Regions from separate parts of the Homo sapiens genome. Here region 1 is linked to region 2. The links come from fine-mapping of genetic effects on gene expression. A gene starts in region 2. The other region holds a variant in brackets. All regions are shown on one strand. Distances are from middle to middle.

Evidence for each region. PIP is the estimated chance that this variant, and not a neighbour inherited with it, causes the effect. A credible set is the group of variants that fine-mapping cannot tell apart.
Region 1: its variant is the best candidate, but not a certain one, in a credible set for the expression of ALPK3 in iPS cells (HipSci, PIP 0.53).

The regions. Positions count from the first base shown.
Region 1 is chr15:84,760,091-84,764,330 of GRCh38, reverse strand. All of the region lies in intron 1 of ZNF592 (zinc finger protein 592), which reads right to left. Among named protein-coding and RNA genes, the nearest start is that of ZNF592, 14 kb to the right of the region's middle. RefSeq lists an enhancer at 3,216-3,717. The variant G/A (reference allele first, on the strand shown) is at 2,292.
Region 2 is chr15:84,815,415-84,819,654 of GRCh38, reverse strand. It overlaps ALPK3 (alpha kinase 3), which reads right to left and starts at 2,299. Exons shown (of 14, transcript NM_020778.5): 1 at 2,060-2,299. The coding sequence starts at 2,202. RefSeq lists enhancers at 1-11, 12-543, 2,671-3,201.

The sequences.
Region 1 (4,240 bases), 55 kb after region 2:
ACTGTCTTTCACATAGCAAATACATGTTTGTTAAGCATTATGCCACCAACCTCAGTGGCCACCAAGCTTTCCCTCCTAAGTTTTCAGAGTGCCCCAGAAATTGCATGCAGAGAGGACAGAAAGACAAGGGAAGTAAAGCCGGGTTTAGTTTACCCCTCCACACAACTCCTCCTCCAGTGCTCGGGATGCCCGCTGAAGCTGAAGAAGCAGAGGGCCAAGCAGGGGCCAGGGGGGCAGGTGAGCTGCAGAAATCATGGCGGGGGCAGATAGCAGTGTAGGAAGAGGTCAGCACAGAGCAGGTGATGAGAATGAGGGTCAAAAAGAGGAAAGTCGGCAGAACTCTTTTTTAAAAACTAGGTGATCCCTAACTGTAGCCAAACATGAGAATCACCTTGAGAACTTTGGAAGCTACTAATACTTGGCCACTACCCCTCTAAGATTCAGATTTAATTGACTAGCGTTGAGAAACACTGGTTAACGGCCCATCAACTACATATACCCACAAGTTACCTAATAAAAGGACTCATTCCCTGAATTTCTCGTTCTGCCCATTCTCACTCTAATCCTGCATTCCCTCGCTTGACTTCATTTTTGTCCAGTTTTGACAGACCAACATTTAGTTTGGATTCTAAATAGTAATACAGACAATATTAATGTAAAAATGTAGAAGGGAAGGGAAAGAAACTAATTATCTCAATTCTACAGAAAGAAACTAGAGAAAACTTTCCTGAAGTTTTTCCTTTTCTTATTTGGGCTTTCACATTTCAAAACATAAACTAACAAGCAGACACTGTGCTGTCCAAATGAGGACAAAAGTTAGAGATCAGGGGCCAAGGGGTGTCTTAGGTCTGCTGTCCAATAGTAAATAAATTGGGAGGTGCTCCAATGAGTATACTAGGTTATTTACTCCAGATTAACCTTGGTTCCTCTGGCCACCAGTTTCTGTTGGGTTATCCAGACAGTCTCTCTCACATGCGCAATCATGCAGTTTGGATGCAGAATGGCTAACAAACCTGAGTGTCAGGCTTCACTTCCAGGCTGGCTGCTTCTCCCAGGTCACCCTAATCACACACGCATGCTTGGATGTGTAGGAATCTTACAGTTTATAACACACTCTTCACACTGCACAAGGAACTCACCAGTGAGTGAACTAAGACTGGCACTCAGGCTCCTGCCTGCCCCCAAGGACCAAGCTGCCCCTGTACTTTGGACTCCAAACCAGCAGGTCAGTTTTCACATTTCAAGTTTCCCAACACACTCATCTTCCCAAGGTGCTACTGAATAGGGCACAAATTTTCCTTCAATTTGGTATTGAGACATTCACCACAGCCCTTGCCATAATGATGACACAACTTAGAGTGTTATAAGACCAAGATTAGACAACATTGCTCTAGAACACTGTTCTAGATTAGAGCTTCTTCCAACACTAGAAAGATTCAGGACTATCGGAGCCAAAGAGATTCTAGAAAACCATTAAATTTAAACCACTTACTCTACAAGCAAGGAAACTGAGGCCCAGAGAGGTGAGGTAATCAAATAAGAAAAGGGACATAAACTGAAGAGTTTTTATTACTGTGGAAGATTCCTGTTATTCCTGGCAAGGTCAGGGGGCCCTTGCTTGCCCTTCCCATCAGAGCAGCTGAAGTCTCCTACTCACAGTTACCCTTCAAATCTCTCCACCAAATACAGGGGATAAGGCTTATTTAACCCTCAGACCAGTGCTTCTTAGACCTGGAGCGATCCTAATGCCTAACCCCAGCTCAGACCAATTAAACCAGAAATTACAGAGGTGGAGCCACCATAGGATCCCCAAAATCCGTACCTTCCCCCATGGGTTCCTTAAACCCTCCCCAGCCTGAAGGGCTTTTGCACTTGCTCTTTTCTCCAATCTGATTGCTCTTTTCTCAGATATCTGCGTGGCTCCCTCTCTCACTTCCTTCAGACCTCCGCTCAAAGGCCATTTAATCCATGAGATTTCTCTGACTTCTCAATTTAAAATAGAAGACCTTCCTCCCCACCAAACCCCTCATCCACCAAGCCTGCTTCATTTTTCTCCATAACACTTTTCACCATCTCTTATATTTTATCTTACTTATTATCTATAAATGCATACAAACCAGAATGAGCCCTATAAGAGTAAGATTTGTGTTTATTTTGTTCCTTGTTATATTCCCAGTGCCTAGAATAGTGCCTGGCACATAGCAGACCATCACATATATACTCTAAATGAACACATCAGGAACACAAATCTCAAAATATGACTCATACCAAAAGATCATAAAGAAGCAGCC[G/A]TTTGGTTGATTATACCAAAAACACTTCTTCACTGATCTCATCTTGGCACAACCCTTATCAAAAACAGGATAGAAGCCTAATGAAACAGAAACCATTCAGAAATACTTTCAGAAATAAGTATTTCTAGACAATTAATCCAATCCAATGGGTTTGTTCGTCAAAGACAATTTGTTCTGAGAAATAAACATACGGAAACAGAAAATGAACTTGAAAGGTGATGGAACAAATGGCTTTCAGATATCATCTTAGCATATGTGCAGATTCAGAAGAAAGCCTGAGAGCACTGACAGCTGTACTCAGACAGGAAGAGTTTTCAGCAGACCAGAAAGAACAGACAGGCTCCTCTCCTGGGATTACAGCCCGTGAGGTGAAGGTGCCATCTGGGATACTATTGCCTGCTTACCCCCAGACCCCTCAACCTGATGAACACCTTCAGCAACCTGAGGATGACCCTTCCTTTTCCTTTCTCCTACTTACACCCCACCTGCTTCCAAAACTCACTTGAAACCACTGACAACACTTTAAACTCTACCACATTGGAAGCACTGGAAGCCTTTGTCAAGGCAGCCACACAGCAGTTGGGGAGCATCCCGCCATTACCAAGTCTCACTGATGTCATCTGCTCCATCCCATGTCTGCCGACCCCCTGGTCCTTGCTCTTTCCTTGCCCTCTCTGGTCTTTCCCTACTTGGTCATCCTGCAAATTTCTTTAAGACTAATCCTTCCCAAACACCATTTTTATCAGGTCACTTACTCTGCTCAAAAACTCCCTGGGCCGGGCATGGTGGTTCATGCCTGTAATCTCAGCACTTTGGGAGGCCAAGGTGGGTGGATCACCTGAGGTCAGGAGTTTGAGACTGGCCTGGCCAACATGGCGAAACCCCATCTCTACTAAAAATACAAAAAAATTAGCCAGGTGTGGTGACGCATGCCTGTAATCTCAGCTACTTAGGAGGCTGAGGCAAGAGAATTGCTTGAATCCGGGAGATGGAGGTTGCAGTGAGCCAAGATTGTGCCATTGCACCCCAATCTGGGCAACAAGAGGGAAACTCTGTCCTAAAAAAAAAAAAACTTCTTCCTGTAGCCTACCATATTAGGTCCAAGCCCTGGGCCAGGCTTTCAAAAACCTCCATAATCTAGGCCTAAGACCAGGGCTACTGTGTTTTTCAGCAGCTGCCCCTCACTGGTCTTGCAGCACCAACTCACTGCCTCCCTGCTGAACAGCACCAGTAAGAGATGGGGTATAGAGACTGGAACAGACTGGACCATGTCTCTGAACTCCGTTCCTACTGAGAGCATCCTCTTCATCCTCCTCTCTTCCACCCAACCACACTCCTTCTCTCCTACTCCAGCTGCTAGCTACACTGCCCTTTGCTACCCTATCTCTACACCACACACACACCGCAGACATGCACGCATGTACTTTCATTCATTCAATAATATTGAGCACCATTACTGTGTGCCAGGCCTTGTTCTAGTCACTGTGGATACCACAGTGGACACCACAGTGAACAGAACAAATGAAATTCCTGCCCATGTAGAGCTGATAATCCACTGGAAGGAGACAGACATACAGAGACAGATTCATAAAAGTCATACTTATTCTCTTTCTCAACCAGGGCTCCTCATATGACATCAGAAGAGTGAATATATTCTCAGTTCTGAAGTGAGAGAGCAAGCCATGAGAATATGGGGGAGAAGAGGTTTTAGGCGGAGGGATGAACAAGAAGGAAGAGAAAGGCCCTGAAGCAGAAGGAGTAGGAGATATGGCTGGGAAGCAGATGATGGCAGGCCATTGCTAGGTCTTTGACTTTGACTCTAAGACGAAAGAGTACAGGAGGATTTGGAGTAGAAGAATGATGTGCTCAGACCAATATTTTATTTGTTGTAGGTGGTTCTTTTTTTTTTTAACCACTTATCCTCAAATTCTATCAGACTGACATTTTAA
Region 2 (4,240 bases):
TCGAGGGACTGTCTTTCTCCCTATCTCTAGGGAGCTCTCCCCACCCCCACAGGCAGTGAGGCTGTTCTGAGGGACAGCAGACAGTACGGTGGCTCCCTCCAACACAGGTCAGGCCTTACTAGAGAAGCAGGAACTGCCTCGCCTCCTCCACTCCCCACTGCAGCCCCAGTCACATTCTCCCCACTTTGGCCAAAGGCTTTTCCAGATGCCTGATAAATCTGGCTGTCCTTGTCTCTCAGAACCTCTAGGGGTCTGTGGCTAGCCAGCAGGAGCAGTAAAAAACTCTGCAGGGGCAAAACACAGCCCAAAGTCCAAAGCTTTCTCCCACTCCTGCTGTCCTGCCCCCTCCAGATACTTGATGAAAGAGACTCCTTTTAAGAACATTCCCATTTAGGTCCAAAGGGACTTAAGCCAGCCACTTCTATCCTGCCTCTAGCTCTCAGGCTGGCACAAGCTTTGTGCTCATGAGGTGTACAATTAACATTTATCTATCATACAACTGCTCAGCCAGGCAGCAGCACTATGTCCATTCTCCAGCCCTTTTCCTAAAAGCCCAGATCCCCTGCCCTCCCCATTCTGCCTGGTTTTCAAGGCACTCTTTCCTCCCTTCCTTCATTGCTGCTGTCTCCAAGAAGGACCCTGGTTCCGCCTCTTCTGTTTGTTCCACTGGTATTGACAAAGGCCAAACACAGGAGGCAAAGCCCAGACAAGTCACTGTGACAAATGTGAGGCTCCCACAAGGGAGTCAGCTTCTCTAAGGACTGGAATAAATGTCCAAATTTCATTCTGGTTTATCTGTAGAGCCAGGAGTAAGAAAAAGGGGTATTCTTTCCTGGCAGCCAGGGGCCTTGTTGAGTCTGACTCAGTCACTAACATCAGTCCTCAGCCCTGCCCCAGACATGTGACACCATTTGACGAGTTTTATGCAGAAACCGGTTCCGGTTACATTTGAACTTTCCCAACTCCAAGGTCAGTAGGACTCAGCCAATTCACGAGGAAGTGCCCAGGACTTTTCCTGAATGTCCTCGATGCCTGTTTTTATGCTGTTTTAGGAATGGAGAACAAGAGGTCTCTGGACAGCCTCTTGGAGGAATGGCCGTTTTCTGCATAATACACAAGTCAAGTTCTCAGGCTATGAAACAACCACTATCTCAACACATTTCCCTTTGGAAAACAGACTCCAGAAGTGAAGGGAAACTGAGCTGCCCACAGGGGGCAGGAAGTGTCTGTCTCCATGGCAATGCGCCTGTCCACGTGTGCCTGTGTGCCTTTGATTTCCTGGATGCCTGTCTATTGTCTTTGTGTCTTTATATCTGTGGGTGGCCTAGCTGCTAAAACAAAGCTTCCACACCTCTTGAACTCTTGGAAGACCAGTGAAGGGCTCATCAGTTCCACACCTCCCTTGGCATTTCACTTCCCCAAACTGGACAGGGCACTTGGCTCCCTCAGAGCTGCAAGTCCTTAATTCCCAACATCTCCAGACAGTACCTCATCCCACCCCCTATCTCACCAGCCCCCACTCAGGTCCTGGGGAGGACCCAAGTCCTCGGCCCAGTAGAGGAACCTTATTTACAAAGGTTTATTTCTTCCTGGAGAACCTCCCCACCCTGAGCTAAGCAGCTCCTACTCTGGGCAGCCCCCCAGCACCCTCTCCCTGTCCCCACCAGTGCTCTCCCCCTCCCTTCCTGCCAGGGAGGAATTTCAGCCACTCTGGCTTTCCTTATCGCTAGCTGTGGAATCCCAAGCCAGGGAGTAGCAGGGTAGGGGGCAGGGGAGATAAGGAAAGCCTTCAGACCCCATGAAATCACTCCAAAGTGGAGCCTTTGTCCTCTCTTGAGCCTCGAATTGCCAGAGGCCTGAGGCGCATGGATCAGGAGGGGTCACAAGGGGCTATGAAAGCCATTCCAGCCCGGCCATGTCCCCAGGCCCTGGGCCTTGGGGCTGAGAGGGCTCGAGGGCGCAGGCCCAGCCCAGGCCTCCAGGGGCCAGGCCGCCCTCACAGGGACTGATCCCAGGGCATCGCCGGCCCGACGCCGCCCTGCCCCTTGGTGCCACTTACCTGGTCTCGGGCCGCACGCTGAGCAGGTAGCTCCGGCTGGCTGGGCTGGGGATCCACACGGGGCCGTCGTCCTCACCGTCGCCCCCCGCCCCCGACCGCCCACCCGCGCCCCAGCCCCGGCTGGGGGCCCTCCGCGACCCCATGGCACCGCCCTCCCCGACCGCCGGCCCCGCACTCGCCGCTGCCTCGCCTGTCCTCCAGGCCCCGGCCCCCGGGCCCCTGCCCGCCGCCGCCGCTCCCGCCCGCGGCTGACGCGCGCCCCTATTTATAGCCGGTGGCCGGGCCGTCGTCACCTGCTGCTGTCCCTCCCCTGGCCTGGCCCGACCCGGGCAGCGCGGCTTGGAGACGCCGGGGGGCGCCGGGGCCCATGTGCCCGCCCCAGGGCCGGCTCCGAGTCCGCTCCCTTGGCGGCCCTGGTGTCTGCAGTAGCGCCGCGTCTGGAGAGGCCCGGGAGGCCTCGGGAGGAAGGCGCAGCGGGTGTCCTGGTCATGGAGGACAGGCCCCTTCGTGGAGCTCCCGGGACCCGGCTCCCGGCCGGCCTGCTCATGTCCCGTGTGGCATATGAGGGGTCCACGAGGCCTGGCCGGGGCCAGGGGAGCCAGGTCAACCGCTGGCCAGCTTGGGCTAGACCGCGGGAGACCAGGGAGCCAAAGAACCAGCCCTCTTCCTGGCACCAGCCGTGACTGACCCTCGCCTTGCCTCGCCAGTGGCTGTTGGCCCAGCACATAGACAAGCCAAGCCACCTCCATTAGTGACCTGAGTCCCTGGGAGGCCGGAACCCCGTGGGATCTCTCTCCTGTCTCCCCCAACACCCCCAGTAACTAGCATAGATTAGGGGCTCAATTAACACTTCTAGATCACTCCTTCGGCCTCCATTTCTCAGCACCAGAGGGGGAAATGGGCTGAGTCCTGATACCCAGAAAAATAATCAAATCATGCAACAATTTCCAAGAACTAGTGCCAAGCACTGCCGAAACCTGGTCTAAATATTGGAAGTCCCCACAGACTTTTTTTTTTTTTGAGACAGAGTCTGGCTCTGTCGCCCAGGCTGGAGTGCAGTGGCGCTATCTCGGCTCACCGCAACCTCCGCCTCCCGGGTTCATGCCATTCTCCTGCCTCAGCCTCCCGAGTAGCTGGGACTACAGGCGCCCCACACCACGCCCGGCTAATTTTTTTCTTTGTATTTTTTAGTAGAGACGGGGTTTCACCGTGTTAGCCAGGATGGTCTCGATCTCCTGACCTCGTGATTCGCCCGCCTGGGCCTCCCAAAGTGCTGGGATTACAGGCGTGAGCCACCGCGCCCGGCCGGAAGTGCCCACAGACTTTTTTATCCATCCTTCTTTCTCCTATTTTCCTGAGAGCATCCAGAAAGTACCTGAAGCTAAATGGCTGTAATTGTTAGAAAGTGGGAGCAAAGGAGTCCAACCCTTCTGTTTTCGAAGCTGCACCCATCCCTACTCCTTTTGGAAATGGCTTTCCCCTACTCCGTGTGGTTCCAATGGCAACTACCTTGTTCCCACATGATCCCACTCCTGGCCTCAGCTGACTGCCATCAAACTCAAGCCAGGCTATTCACGGTACCCAATCTCCCTGACTATAGACCCTGGCTGTGCCAATAAAGTTCTTCTCTAAAACATTTTTAACTGGAATTGGGAAAGAAAACCAGACCCTCTGTGGTGGAAAACTGAGCTGTGAGGCCACAGCTGTCAGCAGCCATGTTTCCTGCCCTGTAGAGTAAGCCAGTTTACAGTGAGGAATAAGGAAGCTAGCACAGAGAGAAGCAGAGGCAAAGGACACAGGGTCCTGGTGGCTTTCAGGTGCCCTCGTTCAGGTGTTCCTGGGTTCCAGCTTTGTCCCTGGCCTTCCTGCAGGTTGGCAGTTCAAACTTTCCTTGGAATCTGTGTACCAAAAAAGTTCTCCCTTTGCTATTTCCAATTTAGGCTTCTGTTGGTAGAAGTATCCTGACCAATACTAATGTGTTCTCTCCTAGTGATCCCAAATTCATCTCTTGATCACATGTCCCCATTCATTCTTGCTCTTGGCTCTCTGGAGGTGCACAGAATCTTCAGTCATCTACAGGGTAGTCTTTCAAATATTTGAAAACCCACTTGGAGTTCTGGTTCATTTGTTTAAATCGTGTATGCTGGTTCAAGCAGCAGAGAAAAAAAGGGGGTGGGTGGG